2 separate regions of the Homo sapiens genome follow, and region 1 is linked to region 2. Evidence: fine-mapped expression QTL. A gene starts in region 2. The other region holds a variant in brackets. All regions are shown on one strand. Distances are between the middles of the regions.

Region 1 (9,460 bases), 670 kb after region 2:
CCCGGTTGTGGAATCAGTCACTTGCTCAAGCACCAGTTGAATGGTCTGGACTAGACTCCTCCAAGATTTCTCCAGATTCAAGATGCTTTATAAGCACCCTCTTCACATACCTCCTTTTCTTAGTTTGTCCAGCAAGAAATGTCCCTTCTGTCTGCTTTCCAAGGTATTTATGGATACTCTTTATGTCCTTCTAAATCAGGGCCTTCCAATTTGGAGAAAAAAATGTGTGCAAGCATGTATGTGTGCTGGAGGTGAGTTGGGTGGATATTTGTTAATGGAGCCATCAGGATGAGCCACTCAGACATTTCAAGACAGCTTGCTATGGAGAGCCCAGTTGACTAAGAGCTCAAGCTGCTACTCCAGAGAATGTGGAGGCCTCAACTCCCACGCACTTCAGCCAGCCAGTGACTGAGGAGAGTGAGGGCACCAGTGCCAGCCCATTCCTGCCCAGTGAAGGATTCTGCATAGGTAGCTTGTTCGGGGATCTCGTCATTGGCTTGGGAGAGAAGTTTTCAAACCTGAGCTGTGGTCTGAGACTCTTTCTGCCCAATTCTTCTTTTCTTTCCCCTTCCCAGGTGTCAAACCTAACTTGTGGTATAAAGACTCTCCCTGCTTACTCCTTCTCTTTCTCCGTTTCTCCTTCACAGGTCTATTCCCTCCAGTAAATTTCTTGAATGAAGTGTCTGCTTCTTGCAAGAACTGAGCTGACATACGTGTATACTGCATGGGTGGGTGTGTGTGTGTGTGTGTGTGTGTGTGTGTGTATATATACCATACATACATATACACACATGTAAATATATATACATACAGATACACATACATATGGAAATATACATACATATATACACACATACATACATATATAAATATAAATACATATACATAGCTATATACATATACATAGAATTAACAAACAGAAGAAAAGAATATCAGCAAAATGTGGAAATTGCATTAATTGGTATTTGACTTTCTCAGTATGTTAATATTTTGAAGTAATCTGAGACAGGCTTTTCCAGAATTAAAAAAGAAAACCTTCAGGAAAGAGAAAATACTGCATAAGTGATTTCCATTTGTGCCAACTGTGGCTGTTTAGTGGCTTCGAGAACCACTAAACTTTCCACAATTTCTCTGCTAAAACTGCACATGCAAATGAATCTGCAAAGACATTTCTCTCTGTTTAGAAAAAAATTGATTTATGCAGAGGTCTATGTTGTTTATTTCGATAAAACTGGTCTCAATTGGAAGTAAATGTCTCCAAAGAAATTTATCTTGGAGAAAGAGGTATGAACTTTATATTATAAAAATTTGATCAACTATCATGTTAGGTGCCAAGGTCAGTGGAAATTTCACTACATTAATATTTACTTACGTTAGGATTATTTTTATTTTTATTAGTTCTTTGATTACAAAGTTACGTAGGTTTTTACTGTTCCATCTTATTCTTTCAAAAAATCTTATTATTTTAGGGGGTGATTCTGTAGAACAGGAGGCTTTCCTACATTGTGGAAGAAACTCCAGTTTATATCTATAAAGATATAAATGTGTTCATTCTTTTTAGAGAGCCAGGGTCTGGCAAATTAAAAGCTTTGTTTCACAAAGATTGCCCTCAAAAGGAGCTTCAAGGGCCTATTCTGGAGCTCAGAAACTGAGCACTGACTCTTTCTTTCATTTATGTTCTAACAATCTGCCTTTCCCAGTCAGGCAATGGATAATCCAGGCTGAAGTCAGGAAAGGCCAGTATTAACAGTGCAAAGAAGAAGTAGAATAAGTATGTTTGAAGGTACGCCTTAGTGTAGGTTTATTGCTGCTGCTCGCTAGTCACTATCTAAGTGGGATTCACTCCTTACCCTGCACACAGGGTTTCAATTCACGCAGCAGAAAGAAGAAAGAATATACTCACAGGTCACAGACTTTCAGAATCATTTGGCAAGTTGAAACAGTAAGTGAACACCCCTGCTCTGCTGTTTTAATTAGACAGGAAAAACCTTAGACATAAATGTGACAATGTATTTTATCAAGTGCTCTTCACTACATCTTCACTGATGCAAAATATTTTCTCCAGCCACTTAAATGAAAATTCTTCCCTAGGAAATTTTCATTCTGATTACCTAAGAGAAGTACCAAAGTGTAAATATATTTTCAGTTTGCAGAAACAAATGAACATCATTTATGGATTCATAAGTCATCATGTAAGCTGCACGTTATCTCTAGGAGGGAAAGATGAGGTGCAACTTCATAGAATTAAAGTCCAGTGGCGAAAAATAGAATTTTCCCAAATCCTACAACACAAGAGATGTAAGAAGCAAATATTATATGACGTGAGGGATTTGGAGAAAATTTAAGTAAGCATTTCCTGATATAAGAGTCCTGAAATATTACAACATTAAAAAGGATTAAAGAATCAAAGTCAAATATCACACAGTGTTTAGAGTTAGTAAGATGATGCAAGGAGAAGGAGAATAGTCACGGCTAACATGGCCTCGTACCTCATAAATCTTATCCGACCGTATTGATTGGCTAAGATTTCTCAAGATCTCTGCTGTCCAATTCTTTTCATGAACTGTTTGTTTCATTATTTTATATTTGCCTTTTCACATGATTAAGAAAACAGAAAAATTAAAGATGAAATTCTTCTCCATCAGTTATTGTGTAACAGTTCACAGTGCTAGGCAGTAGAATCAGTGGGAAAGAGAAAAATACGGATGTGATGGGACCTTACCCCAGACACTGAATCAGCTTTTCTGGGTGTGGAGCCCAGGCATCTTTAATTCACTAAGTATTTATTATTATTATTATTTTTTTTTGAGACGGAGTCTTACACTGTCGCCTAGGTTGGAGTGCAATGGTGCAATCTCAGCTCACTGCAACCTCCGCCACCTGGGCTCAAGTGATTCTCCTCCCTCAGCCTCCGGAGTAGCTGGGATTACAGGCATGCGCCACTGTGCCCAGCTACTTTTTGAATTTAGTAGAGATGGGGTTTCACCATGTTGCCTAGGCTGGTCTTGAACTCCTGACCTCAGGTGATCCATCCACCTTGGCCTCCCAAAGTTCACTAAGTATTTCTAATGAGCAGCCACACTTAACTGCTAGTCTATAAGGGATACCTTTAATTGTTTTTAAAGTTTAAATTTATCACCCAAATATTAAGCCTTGTACAACATACCCCCCCGACACAAGTTTACCTATGTAACAAACCAGCACTTACACCTCTGAACTTAAAAGTTTTTAAAAGTTTGTGCAAAAGTATGAGATTTTGCTAAAAGATTGCCTTGAAGTATCCATCAAGAACAAAACAGTCATTTTAATTTCCTCATGCAAATTTTAAAAGAAGCTATACTAGGAAAATTCAAGGCCATCTGGAACTAAGTTGCATGGCAGTCACCTAAAATCCTTGGTGGAAAAGATAAGGCTGCAATCAAATAAAGTGAATTTCAAAGTCACGATTATCATTTTAAAATCAGAATTTCGAGCAGAAATATCAAGAACAGGTATTGTTGGAAGAAATATAAGATTTTTAAAACCCTCTGGCTCATATTCACGTAGGTGAAATTAACTGCTCCAATACAAAATACCTTGTGATCAGTAAACTGAACATATCTTTTGCAACAAGAATGTACAAGGTCAATTGGAAGGTGGGGTGGAGCCACTGCTGTGAAGTCTAAGGCTACAAGTGTTGTCAATATGTAACAATCCTTAAGGAAAATTGTTAAGTCACTGTGGACAGTACAGGAAAACTCTGGGCTAACAAGTATTTAAGTAAATAATTATCTCCTTTGCAATTTGAAGATTAGTTAGAAGTGAAATAATTCCCAGCACATAACCTGATGTAAACATTGCCTTATTTTCTTTTTCATTTTCAGGATAGCTATTCCTGCATTCAATAGCCACAAAGAAAGAAAAAAACATAAAATGTGAGATTAAAAAAAATCATTAATTATGACTATAGTTTTTGCACATATAAGTTTTACACATGGCTGTAATGACAAGAAGAAAGCTTCTGCATTGTCTTTGGTCCTGGTTATGATAAGTAACACTGTCCGCCAGACGGTATAGTGATAGACCCTATACTGTACTGAACTTCAAAAGATATTTGTAAGATGGAGAGTTGCCAGTAAGTAGAATGCTTTCACCCTACTTCAATATTAGTTTAACAACTGGAAAGATCTGGCTGCTTAAATATTAAACACATGTTCAATTATTAAACACTTAGGATTCTTCTTCTGATTATTAAACCTGTATGTAAAGAACATTGGTGCTAATGTGCAGTCAGCTTGACTGGCACCACAATCTTCCCATGTTGTGGATTTCAAATTGTTTCTATACTGTCTCAGGCATCAAAACAGGGCTTGGCAGCACCAGAATCTAACAAAAATGCAATTAAAAACTACTTCTCAAAGTTTCCAGTGGGCACGCGGATCATTTCCAAGAAAGATGTTCAGATTATTGCTCAAGGCAAAATGACTTCAGACGGTGATTTTGCCATTGATCTAACAGGAAAGAATTCCCTGCTAATGAACCTCGGGAAAGAGATTAATAGAAATAAAAGATAGCTCCTACCACTACCCTTTATCGAATGTGAGTGAGTCTGACAATAAGACATGAGATTCATTAAAATGTAACAGTAAGAAAAACAGTGTTACAAATAACTGAATTTCTGAATAAGTAGCAGTCTTCTATAAATACTGAGTCAAACAATCAGCTAATGAAGTTCAATGCTCTATCATCCTTGAACATGTTACTATGAAATTTAAAAATGCAAGGAAGTTAATTAATGACTCTTCAAATTAATTTAATAATGTGAACTACCTCATCCAAGTCGATGGTTTGAATAATTCTAGGGGTTCCTGTTCTCCTGAACTGATGACTTTGATTAATATATTTTACCTTATTGCTTTATTCTAATAGAAAATTAGAAGGGGAAATGGAAGGGAAATTTTGCAGAATTAGATTTAGAAACAAAATGTCTTGATTACGCTGTGCAGTACCCAGCATTTCCTATATACAGAAGCATTTAGCTACCTTGCTAAATTATTTTCCTGAAATTTAGTGTTATATACGTTAAGTCCAGGAAACATCAGCTCATATGCTTTGTGATAGACATGGCGCTCGATCTCTACATACAAAAAAAAAAAAAAAAACCTCAACAAGAGAAATGACATCATCCAACTCTTAGGTCACTGGGAGGTACATGCACTGGAATCTGATTACACTGGCCCCACTGCTTCTGTTATCATTATCAAGTCATGTGACTCTGGGCACGTCACTCCATCTCATGCAAAAAATACTTTGCTGGACTAAGTGCTCTCCAGTGTTTACTCTCACTCTACCATTATATAATATATAAATTAACAGGGAAATGTGGCTGAGATAATGCATAAACCTGGAAAATATGAAGTCATTAACATTTAGCCTTAGGATGCA[A/G]TAGTTTTCTTTCAGGAAATTACTTTCATATTTATATTCTGCCTGAGCTGGTGTTAAAACTAGTTTCCATTCCTAGGTCACACCAGATGACAGTGAAGTCAGATGATTCAGATTCATGCATGGACAAAGGGTGAAGCCTCCTCAAAATATTGACAATATTTAATAATCTATAACACAGAAGTCATTGATGGTATTTTCTGGGTAAATGAACATGATCTCCCATGTCCTTAGTGGAGAACATGACATAATCTATTTTTTTTTTTTTTTGAGACCGAGTCTCTCTCTACTGCCCAGGCTGGAGTGCAGTGGCACGATATTGGCTCACTGCAACCTCCGCCTCCCAGGTTCAAGCGATTCCCGTGCCAAAGCCTCCCAAGTAGCTGGGATTACAGGTGCCTTCCACTACACCCGGCTGATTTTTGTATTTTTAGTAGAGACAGGGTTTCCCTATGTTGGCCATGCTGGTCTCCAACTCCAGACCTCAAGTGATCTACCTGCCTTGGCCTCCCAAAGTGTTAGGATTACAAGCGTGAGCCACAGCACCCTGCGGAAGACATAATTTATTGAGCAAACCTTTAGTAAGTGCCTATTTTGTGCCTACCTATTGTGTTTAAAATTGTGTTAATGTCTGAAAAGAAATTAAAACCTATTGTCTCTTCCTTGAGCAAACTTAAAATAGTTGAGAGTACTGACGAAATAGTATATCATTCAAACAAGACTACAGTTAACTAAGCAATAGCTAAATTATAAGCTGCTAAGCTGCACAGTGAGTTCAAGTTTCTTAATCAAGTATCAAATATGTGAGAGGGAGGTGCTGGGCATGATGGCTCATGTCTGTACTCCCAGCACTTTGGGAGGCCTAGGCAGGGGGATTGCTTGAGCTCAGGAGTTCGAGACCAGTCTAGGTGACATGGTGAGACCCTCATCTCAATAAAAAATACAAAATTTAGCTAGGCATGGTGGTATGCACCTCTAGTGCCAGATACGTAGGAGGCTGCGGTGGGAGGGTCACTTGAGCCAGGACGCTGAGATTGCACCTCTGCACTCCAGCCTGGGTGGAGAACAAGACTCTGTCTCAAAAATAAATGAATAAATACATAAACAAATAAACTATTCAAAGGCGGATTGGGATCACTGTATCCCTATCCAAAAGGGAATACCTTGGATACAATAAAAAATTAAGCATTAACTGAAAATCTGAGGAACTTTGAGGGATTGTTGGGCATGTCCAGATATTAGATCTCCAATAAAGTGTAGAATGAAAGTACATGATTTGATTTAAAGTTGCCTTTTAAGATACTTTATGTGAGAGTGCTACATATTTGTTAGAAATAGGGAGAGATGGTACTGGGTGGTACACCTTATGTCAGAAATGGAAATATTACAGTGACTAGAAATATTAAAGTGACTAGAACATACAATTATCTGACATAAATTTTCAATACATTAGCTTTGCTATGGCAAAATACCCTAAACTTAAACTGATGGAGATTAATTGCTTGCTGCATGTCCACTTACTCTGGAAAACCCCAGTCTGGATTCTAGTCGATAACCCCATATCTGGTTATGATTATAGGTTCAGAGTCACTTATCTCTCAATGTTTAAAGATGTTGCTGTATTGTATTCTGGCATCCAAAGTTACTGTTGGAAAGTCTGATGTTATTTTGATCCCTATCCTTTGCATGTGATTATTTTTCCTCTATGAAAGTGTATTAGTGTGCTGGGACTAAAATTACAAAATACTAAAGACTGAGTGACCTAAACAATAGCTCTTGATTTCTTACAGTTCTGGAGGCTGGGAAGTCCAAGACTAAGGTTCCAGCTGATTTGGTTTCTAGTGAGGGCTGTCTGTCTTGCAGACCATCACCTTCTTGCTGTTTCTTCACATGGAGAAGAGAAAGAGCAAGCTTTCTGATGTCTATTCTTATAAAGACACCAATATTATCCGATTGAGGCCCCACCCTTATGACCTCGTTTTACTTTAATTACTTCCTTATTCCAAAGATTGTCACATTGGGGGTTAAGGTTTCAACATATGAATTTTGGGGGACACAATTCAGTCCATGCAGAAAATATTTAGAAGTTTTCTTAATCTCTAGAATTCTGAAATTTCATAATGCAGGTTTATCTTCAGCTAATCCCATCAGTCCTTCAATCTGGAACATTTCCACTTTTTAGAAAAATATATAATTCTTTTGCTTTTATTTCCTTTACTAAAATTTCTGTTATCTAAATATCAAATCTTTTGTAATTACCTTTTGATTTTCTCATACTGTTCCAGTATCTTTCATTTATTTATCTTTTTATTCTACTCTGGGATATTCCTCAACTGTTATACTATTATTCCACTTTGCTGCCCAAATTTTATTTTGATTATCCAATTTTAAGTTATAAGAGCTATCTTTTTTCTTTGACTTATTCTTTCTTTCTCTTTCTCTCTTACTGTCCTCTTAACCCAATACATTTTCTTACTTGTTTGAGGACATAAATTTGAGGTTTTTGAAAATGTTAGCCTTACCTTATTTTGTATCTTTTTTGCCCTCCATTTTCTGGTAGTTGTTTTTCCCCGACATTGAAGGCTTTCATCAGCTGTCTACGTGTCTGTACATATGTAAGAATGAAAGAATAAAAACCTGGTTAAAAGGTTGAAGACTGATGGGCAAAGGGGGTATTTGTGGTTCTGTGGACTTCACTGCTGAGTCATTGCACAATCAGCTGGACTCTCAATGAGAGTATGCAAAGATTGTTTCCCTGTAATTATTCAGTTCTTCCAGAGAACATTTTTCTAGTTTTCTGTTGCCTTAATGCTTATGGTAAGAGGACGGCGGCTGGGCGCGGTGGCTCACGCCTGTAATCCCAGCATTTTGGGAGGCCGAGGCGGGTGGATCTTTTGAGGTCAGGAGTTCGAGACCAGCCTGACCAACATGGTAGAACCCCGTCTCTACTAAAAATGCAAAAATTAGCGGGGTGTGGTGGTGTGCACCTGTAATCCCAGCTACTCAGGAGGCTGAGGCAGGAGAATTGCTTGAGCCTGGGAGGCGGAGGTTGCCGTCACCCAAAATTGTGCCACTACACTCCAGTCTATGCAACAGAGTGAGACCCTGTCTCAAAAAAAAAAAAAGAAAAGAAAGAAAGAAAAAAAGGAGGGCTTGGGGGCATGGTTTTGTCAACCTTTTCTAGAGTCCTATGAGCAGGGTTCTACAATTTGGCATTGAGACTCTTCTGTATCTCCGCCCTTTTTTAAACTCATACTTTACCCCAGACGTTCACTGTACTTGCGGGCCTGAGGTCAAAAATCTTTTTTTTTTTTTTTGTATCTCTAGAAACTATCCCTCCTCTCTCCTGCCAGATGGAGATAAGATAGACCATCATTTCCGTGTTGCTCAGAGTGGGTGAGGATTATGTGGTTCATCCGCCATGTAACACTCAAAACTAATTCTGTTTTCCTTCGTTTTTAGTTCCCACTCCTACGTCAATATCCTGTAGGCTTTTAGTTGTTACTTATTCCACCTTGCTAATTCACTTGCCACCCTTTATTTTATTTCTTTCATAAATTTGTTTACATTCCTTATCCATTGCGTTCTTCTTTCTTCATCCTTTTTGTTAAGTTTGTCTGTCATGGCAAAGTACCTCTATAGGCTGCTGTCCTTTGAAATAATTTTCTTTAGTGATAATTAAAGAAGACATTTTAATTGCATGTGTTATCTGAAATGTACTGTTAGAAATAATGACTTCTCAGATTCAAAGAGAATCTATCACAAAGCAATCCTCTACTTTGTGCAGTAATATAACTTCTCAATAACACTCTTGCTCCTTTCTTTTCCGTTATCAACTGACAGTCTTAAAAAAAAACTATTTTCATATAATGTTTGGCTGATATTTCTTAGTTATGGTAATGGTTTTATAGAGATTAGAATTTATAACTAAATATATTAAGGTCAGAAAGGGAAAAGTAAATGTGCATTAGCTAATATTTGTGTCTTATTTTAAAATAATTTTCAAATGATAAGATTGACATAATGTACATTGTTGATA
Region 2 (9,460 bases):
CAGGAGAAAAGACTTCTAGGTAGAGGATACAACATAAGCAAATACACAGAGCCTGGAAATTGTGAGATCCATTTGGAAAAAGACAGGCCATCTTGTCTGATCAAAGCAGTAAGTATGAAATACAGAGAGGACACTGAAAGGAAGCACATCTCCAAAGGTAGACTAGAATTGTGTCATAAAGGCCTCAATTCAGGCTGAGGAGCCTGTGACTAATATGAAAGATAATGGTGAGCCAGTGAAGCCTGTTGAGATGGGAAATAATGGGATTGAAGCACTGACTGAGAAAGACCTCACTGGCATCTCTACAAAAAATGGGCAAGGAAGGTTAAAGAGTGGAGGACGGGAAAGAGGGGGAAATATGTGTTGGAAGATGTTACAATAGGTGGTCATAAAAAATAATTAACAAATAAAAGTCATTTCCATTGATGATACATAAAAATTAACGAGCCCCTAGCTTCTGGTCTGGCTTCCAGAGTACTTAATGTTGGTCTGTTAAAATTACTGCAAATTTTTTTTTTTGCTATTTTTAATTTGTTTTTATTTTTTAGTCCAAGATATGAAGAACACACATAGTTAAAATCAGAAATAGCAAGAAAATCCAAACTAAAGGGCTGGAATGCTCCTCTGATGCATGCTGAGGGTAGAAAAATAATAACAATTAAAAAATAAAGTGCTGGAATGCTTAAACAGTTCGACATTTTCTATAATACTATGGAATGAGGCCAGGCACAGTGGCTCACTCCTATAATCCCAGCACTTTGGGAGGCCAAGGTGGGTGGATCACGAGGTCAAGAGATCAAGACCATCCTGGCCAATATGATGAAACCCCATCTCTACTAAAAATACAAAAATTAGCTGGGCATGGTGGTGAGTGCCTATAGTTCCAGCTACTCGGGAGGCTGAGGCAGGAGAATCGCTTGAACCCAGGAGGCAGAGGTTGCAATGAGCCAAGATCACGACTGCACTCCAGCCTGGGCGACAGAGTGAGCCTCCGTCTCAAAAAAACAAAACAAAACAACAACAAAAAACTATGGAATGAAGTGTGAGCTCTAAAGACAAAAGAAACTGATATTTACTAATTATCTACTAGGTACCAGGCTTTACAACTCCCCTGAGAAGTACTGATAATCACCATTTTATAGGTAAGGTGACATATAACTGACACATATCAGGGTAGGGACCAGACCTCTCTGTCTGAAGAGTCATATCATCTTTCTTTCCCACCACACTACATTTGAACAAATGATAAACTGCAGGCTACAACCATTAGGGAGTTATGAAATCAATACTGTGAGTCATGACCAGTATCTATTTTACAATGGGATAAAATGTAAAATATCAAGTGAGCACTGATTATAATAAGGGTAACTAATATTTTATGAAGTATCAATTTCATATATATGTGTTTATATGTGTGCATTTACTGGAACAATATAAAATGTATTTCTTATTTTAGATAATAGCAAAATAAATTGGAAAGCTACTACATAGATACTATATGCATAGATATTACTATAGATAGTAATATCTATCTACAACATAGAGATATTACTCAGGTTACCTTTAGAAATAAATTTTACTCTAATCAAAAATACTTCAATTTGTAGTAGCTAAAAAAAAAAATATTAACAGCAGTTACTCTAGGTTTAGCATATGATGACTGAATTAATAGAAGTCAATTAAATTATTCACTAAAACTACAGTAAATAAAAGTCAATAATTAACATCAATAGAAGTCTTAGGTTCTCATATAGCCCTCAAATATAGATAAAAAATATCATTTATTTTAAAAATAAAATAAATTGAAATAATGTAGCAATTTTACCTGTTTTCCAAATGATTTCTAAATTTATGTAACTATTTTCTTAAAATGGTTAATTATCAATTCTCAGATAAAAGTATTAAAGATTAAAAAACAAAACTAATGCCAACTTCATTTAAAAAAAAAAAACTAAGAATGATTCCAGTGTAGTAATTACAGCATCCTGAGTTTGTTTTCTAGTCTATTATGCTAGCCCATATGACCTTTGTCAAATTACTTAAGCCTTCTAATCCCCAAATATTCTCATATTAAAAGTGGGAATAATAATAACATATTTCATAAGGTAGATAAGGAGAAACCCTACGTAAAGTGCTGGGCAAGATTGCCAAGCTCTTAGAAAATGTTCAACAAATAGGATTGAAATTTCATTTCATGTATAATGCTTGGCATGATTAATTTATGCCAAAAGCCAATTGTCACTGCCAGTAAATTTCATAATTAAACTGAATGTGAGGTGGAATCATAAAAGCTAAAGTTCTGAGGATATTTCATCTTATTCCTGATTTTTCCCAATCTGCCGGTCCTTTCCTATCTGTCTTCTTGCTCTCTGTGAACTTAAAAAAATTAAAAGCTCGATCTCACCTTGCCACACTATTATGTTTTATATGATTATTTCCAAGCCTCTTACTAGCAAAGCCTTGAATCTCAGTCCTGAAGGATTAGTGGTAGCACAGGGAGTGGAGAGAGATGCAATGTGACAAGGCCAGAGTTGCTAGGCCTGCAACATGACCAACTGTAGCTTATAATTCCCTAAATGGGTTCAGATCACTGTGGTATGATAAATGTGTGGACTGCTTTATAAAGAATCATTTAACAGTGATTTATTTCTGGGGGGGAACCAAATGCCACCAGAACTAATTTGATGAAGTGACAAGAGAACACAGACTTTAGTTGTGGGTCACAAACTCTCTTCATCTTTCTGCTACTATATTTCCAAATGAGCAAAGGAATTGTGAAGTTGAAAACCACTCTCTTTCATAAGAGAAAATTATGAATAAGAAGCCCAGAGCACCAGAGATAACCTCCACCTGAACATCTACTCTGTTGAGACCACCTCCCTCCAAAATTGTTTTCATCAGCAGTGCTTTCCTAGGGGAGCGAAAATGATGTATATCATGGTACAAAACCCTTATTGTGGTAACTGATCTGATCTTCCCTGCTCGTGTATTCCTGTTTATGTAAGTACAATAAATCCAATATGAACAGGACAGCTTCGATGTTGAGAAATCCCTCCTGAGAAATTCTGGGCAGATTTTTCTCTTAAGAAGCTTAGAGCTGATATGGCTTTGACAGATACAATTCCAATATTTAATTTAATTCAATAAACTTAATTGATGACTTGCTATGTGCTGGGCACTGGTTTATATTTGAGTTCTCAATTCCAGGTTTAAGAATCATTATTAACATTAGGATGTGGGGTCAGAGGGATGAGTATAATACAAGTCATATCCTCGGTAATCCGTGTCATTGTGTAGGCAGAGTTGAATTAACTACTATAGTTAGGCAAGGGTCACATGTAACCCTCTCAATGATCCTTTGCCACCCATCCCTGAACCCCTTGATCTGTGTGTCCAGCCAAGGTTGATGATTCTTCCACAATAAGAACAATTCTTCACTCTAGTGCTTGTCTTTCTCTTTTAGAAACTCTATGAAAATCCCGTAAGGTAGAACCAACAAAGTCTAAAACACTATCAGTGGGAGTGATTTATCATGGCAACTGTCGACTTAAAACTTTCAAGTAAAGAAACGCTTGTTTTACTGACCTACAAGTAGGAGAATAATTTCAAGGCTGGAAGCTAGAACCTTCAGAATCCAGAAAAATCCCCAGGCCTGATATGTAAGCTGTAGCCAAAGAAACAGATCACAGGCCACACTAAAATTGTGAACTTCATGGCAATTGCTCCAGTCCCACCTGCTCCAGATACCTAAATCATGAAGGCTTACTAGGTAGGTATGCTTACCTCCTACACCCTCTATTTCTTTCTCACCTGCAGAAGAAAGGGATGGAGCTTTGCTCATGTCTAATTCTACTTCATCTTCTTAGTTCAAAATATTGCTGTAAACCCAGAAAGGAGGCTCAGAATCTTTACTTCCCCTCTCACTATTTGCTGTTACAGTTCAAGTATGTGTATCTGAGTAGCCCTAAAAAGTAACCAAAATATTATGGTAAATCAATTTCACCAAACTTGTGTTAGCCATTAAAATTAGTCATGGATACCTTTAATTAGCATCTTACCTTTAATGGCTCATGGCAATGTAGGAACTCAGGCCCTGGAGGACACAGCACAGCAATTTGATTACTGATTCTGCACTTGTAACAACATAATCCTGGGCAATCATTTAACTCTAAACTCAATTTCTTCATCTACAAATCAGAGATAATAATAACTCATATGTTTGTAAATAAAGAACAGGGTGCAATGCCTAGCACACAACATGCATTTAACAAATATTTATCATTGATAAATTAGTAGAATGGTATAATAAGAGGAGCAAGAATTTAGACATTGATGATCTAGGCTCAAAATTACAATCTGCTGGTGATTCTCTGAGCCTAAGATTCTTTATGTCTAAATCGAGAATAGTATCACCTCCTTCTCAGGAGAATAATAATGTGATTAATTATTAATTATCTAAGGAGAATATGAATCTGATAATATTCTTAGTTGTTGTGAAAATTAAACAAGAAAATGAGCATTATTGAACCTAACACAGTTTTGGCACACAGCTTATGTAAAATCAGATTGACAAACTTTGGTTTAACTTCATTAGCCACCAGAATATTTGTGAAGGTAACTGCAAACCAAATGCACAAATAGAATAAGACAACCTGAACTATTTTATTAATTGATCTGGTCATGGTTAATTCTAAGTAACAAAGAAAATGGGAAACGTAAAACAGAAAAAAATCCAGTCTATAAAATGAACATGAACCCCAAATCATGAAATGGTCAGCAAGGCTGCACGGCAGTACAGTGAACCATCCAGAGGCAGTGAACGTGGTGCTCCCAGTGACCTTGAGAAAAATCGCTTACGTAATGAAGGCTCAAAGCATGACATACGTTTGAATCCAGTTAAGAGAGAAATAGAGGTTAAGGCCATAGAGCACTCATTTTGCTCCTTCAGAGGAGAGTAGAAGTAAAGTACACTGTCATTGCCTGGCAATTGCAAAAAATAGAGGCAGCCTATTTACAATCTTTGAAAGTTACGTGGAAATTCACTCCTTAATTCTCTCTCAAGATCTCACATTATATGCCTGAAAGCAGCCGTAGTTTCTATGAAGTCCTTCTCCTTCTCTGCTTCTTTCTTCTCCTCCTCCAGCCCCCTCTCCTCCTAATTTTTGTTCTTCTATCATTTGCAGAGGCAGCTGTAGTAGTTTGTTAACTGGTAATGGAGGGGAAGATTAAAAAGGGAGTGAAAAATGAAAGCATATCAGCCAGGCACAGTGGCTTGCGCCTCTAATCCCAGCAGTTTGGGAGGCCGAGGCGGGCAGATCACTTGCAGTCAGGACGTCGAGACCAGCCCATCTCTACTAAAAATACAAAATTAGCCAGGCATGATGGCGGGCACCTGTAATCCCAGCTATTGGGGAGGCTGAGGCAGGAGAATCTCTTGAACCTGGGAGGTGAGGTTGCAGTGAGCTGAGATCATGCCATTGCACTCCAGCCTGGGCGACAGAATGAGATGCCATCTTTAAAAAAAAAAGAAAGAAAAAAAAAGGAAAGAAAGAATATCAAAAAGTCAGGAGAGCAGACAAAGTCTCTAGCTCTAAAAACAAAACCAGAAAGCTGGTATATTTTGGAGAAATTATGAAATATTTTACAAAAAGATATCATTTGTGCCAGTCATATGTAGAAACAGATGCTTCCACAAATATTGGAAAAAAATATAAGCACCCACACTGTTTACATCCTTTACTTCCTTCTTTGGCTGTATGACCAATCGAAATAGCCCCATGCTAAACCAAAGCAGTGTCCATCACATTTACATGTGGACAGTTAATATGCCTACGACAGAAATCATTAACGTGTCAAAAAATGAATGTGAGATGCATCAGGATGAAGAAATACATAATGATGGTAGTGAGGTCTAATGACCAGCAGCTTTGGATTTATAGAACCACCCTCAGTTTCTGATTAAGCCACTAATTTTTGGTGGTTTAGAGCATTTCAATCTTTATTACTGAAGATGGATTCATAAAATGGATGCAACTGTCAAAAGGTTTAAACATTTTGGAGGCAATCATAAGAACGCCAATTAAAAAGTATTTCATAGTGAGAATTCATCTGCCTGAACACCAGTATGGGGTAATTCTGCTTGTAGTAAACCTGAGAACAGTGAAAGTGTGATTATGTAGTTATCAGTTTGACACTCAGGGAGCTATATGATTTTAGAATATGAGTTAAAGATTAATCTCAAAAGGCTCAGTGAACTTTCTATGGTTTCTTCCACTTTATAGCTGTATTCATTTCCTACTACTGATGTGACAAATTGCCACAAATGTAGTAATTTAAAGCAATATACATTTACTATCTTACAGTTCTGGAAATCAGAAGTCTAAAATGGGTCTCACTGGGCTACAATTAAGACTGGGCAGGGCTTCCTTCCTGTTCCTTTTGGAGGGTCTATCAGAGAGTCTGTTTTCTTGGCTTTTCCAGTTTCTAGGGACTGACCTTGATCCTTGGCTTATGGTCCTCTTTCATCTTCAAAGCCAGCAATCACATAATCACAACTCCTGCCCCTCTCTTTCATTTACAAGTACACTTATAAAATATTAGGTCCACTAGGATAATCCAGAATTTTTTCCTCATTTTAAGATCCTTACCTTCATCATATTGGCAGAGTCCCTTTTGCCATGTGAGGTAGCATATTCAGAGGTTCTAGAGATTAGGACACTGGCATCTTTGGGGCAGGGCCAGCATTCTGCCTATCACAATACCCTGCAATGACAACATTGTAGAAATGCTAAGGTGCTCTTCATTTTGGGAATTGTTTCTCCAGCTCCCCCAGCAACTGATATTCCAGCTGAAGAACAGGAGTAAGTAATATCTCATTTGAAAGTTTCACATAACCTGTAACTTTGAAGACTGTATGCTGAGTGTGGTCAGGCTGGCAGATTATAAAACAGGATCTTTAAAGAAAAGAAGCTGGAACTCTTGACACAATCAAAAGATGTTCCGACACAATGAAACAGTCAACTCATACACATATCAAAGACCTGGACATACAGAAGTAGAGATCACATGAACAAGCAGTTCAGGGAATAAAAGGAAGAATTTTTCTGAGTGCAAAATATAAATTTTGAGGCATACACCAGCTTTGTACCAAAAAAGGAGCCATGCTTTTACATATACCTAGTTCTTAATTGGCCTATGCTATGGTCTGAATGTTTATGTTCCCCCAAAATTCATATCTTGAAATCCTAATACCCAAGGTGATGCTATTAGGAGTTGGGGCTTTGGGGGAGGTAATTAGGACATGAATGGGGTTAGCGCCCTTATAAAAGAGGCTGCAGAGAGCTCTGTTACCTCCTATACCCATGTGAGAACATAGCAAGAAGGCCCATCTATGAACCAGGAAGTGGGCCCTCACCAAAAGTGTCTGAGGTTGCCGTGATCTTGGACTTCCAAGACCCTAGAATTGTAAGAAATAAATTTCTGTTGTTTAGGAGCTACCCAGAAAATGGTAACTTGTTATAGCAGCCTGAATGAACTAAGACAGTCTGATCTGGGCAACAGAGGCACTTATCTTCTGTTAATCATATAAAATGAAAGCTCTGTTTTCTCATCAATCCATAAATAAGGATTTTAAGGGGTACATTATTTCAGGTGGTGTATTAGTCTGTTCTCACACTGCTAATAAAGACATACCTGAGGCTGGGTAATTTATAAAGAAAAAGAGGTTTAATGGACTCTCAGTTCCACATGGCTGGGGAGTCCTCACAAGCATGGTGGAAGGCAAAGGAGAAGCAAAGGCACATCTTACATGGCGGCAGGCAAGAGGGCTTGTGCAGGGGAACTCCTCTTTATAAAGCCATCAGATCCTGTGAGACGCATTTGCTATGACAAGAACGGCACAGTAAAGACCTGTGTCCATGATTCAATCACCTCCCACTGGGTGCCCCCCATGACAGGTGGGAATTATAGGGATTACAATTCAAGATTAAATTTGGGTGGGTACACAGACAAACCGTATCAGGTGGGTTTTGTGGATTGGTAGGAAAAGATGCACACATCTGTGATAGGTTGCTGACTGATTTAGACAACAAAACACATCAGAAGCAGAGTGGCTACACTGAGGAAGAGTGTGCACTGTGCACACTGGCATAGTTTTTCCCAGGCCCTTGGTTCTGGAAACATCCAGCTGGTGTGACACTCCCCAACCAAGCAGTCTTGCAAGAATGCCCTTCAACTCAAGTTGCCATCAGGCTCACATTAGAATTTCAGTGATAATCTATGTCTACCACTCCCAAGCTATGCTCAACTGTCAGGATAGCTCGAGGTAGTTGGCAGTTTCAATATTTGATTGCATTACATTCCTTTTCATTATGTTATATCTTTGCAAAGCTGGGTTCATAGCCATTGCTGTAATAAAATGTGCGTCATGAAAATCAATGTGGATGGGAATCAGGTAGCAGTGTCCAATCTAATTCCAATGTATGTGAAGTCATTCTGTGCCCAACAGGAGGATATATCCCATTAGTAAGCAATAGTGGTTATTTAAGAAAAAAATATTTTATTTCAATTTGTGTGTTTTTTCAAATGATATATATGTTTTTCAAATTACGTTAGTACATAAATTCTTATTCATTTGTTTCAACCTACCTACCTAATGAATAAAACTACTTAATGTTGAGTATTTTCTTTGGCCTAGGGGTATGATGAAAACATTACAAATATACTAAGGGGACTACAAACCAGGATCTACGCTCTGCCATTTAAAGGAATATTTATAAACACTGGCTCTCCTGATTCATTAAGCAAACCCAGTACTCAGAAGGCCACATGCTCCCCCATTTGTTAGAGGAAAAAAGATGCACTACCCAAGTGCCCTGGAAAAAATCTTTTTCCTGCTTTCCTGAAAATCCACTCCCCATAAAACCATACACATACAAACTGTCTTTGCTTTGGCTACTCTATTAGTCAGAGCTCTCCAGAGAAAGAAAACCCATAGGCGATATATCCAGATAACTAGATGGATAGATAGGCAGAGAGAGAGAGAGAGAAGAAAATTTATTACAAAGAATTGGCTCATATGATTATGGAGACTGAGAAGTTCCAAAATCTGCCATCTATAAGCTGGAGATCCAGAGAAGAGCTAATGGTGTAATTCCAGTTCAAGTCTGAAGGCCTGATAACCAGGAAATGGTATAAATACCAGTTCCAGGGCAGGAGAGGACCAATGTCCCAGCTCAACCAGCAGGCAGGAAGAGAAAGGGACAAATTCTTAATTTTTCCCCTTCGGTATTTTTGTTCTATTCATGCCCTCAGTGAATTGGATGATGACCACTCACAATCTGCTTTACTAAGTCCATTTATTCTAGTGGTGATCTCAACCTAACACACCTTCACAGAAACACCCAGAAACAATGTTTTATCCAGGCACCCCATGATACAGTCAAGTTGACCTAAAATTAGC

What was found.
Region 1: its variant is fine-mapped to the expression of CNTN4-AS2 in lung (GTEx, PIP 0.99).

The regions. Positions count from the first base shown.
Region 1 is chr3:1,464,094-1,473,553 of GRCh38, reverse strand. No RefSeq gene overlaps it. Among named protein-coding and RNA genes, the nearest start is that of CNTN6, 380 kb to the right of the region's middle. The variant A/G (reference allele first, on the strand shown) is at 5,425.
Region 2 is chr3:2,138,439-2,147,898 of GRCh38, reverse strand. It overlaps CNTN4-AS2 (CNTN4 antisense RNA 2), which reads left to right and starts at 3,658. Exons shown (of 3, transcript NR_046555.1): 1 at 3,658-3,769. The region is part of intron 2 of CNTN4 (contactin 4); the gene reads right to left.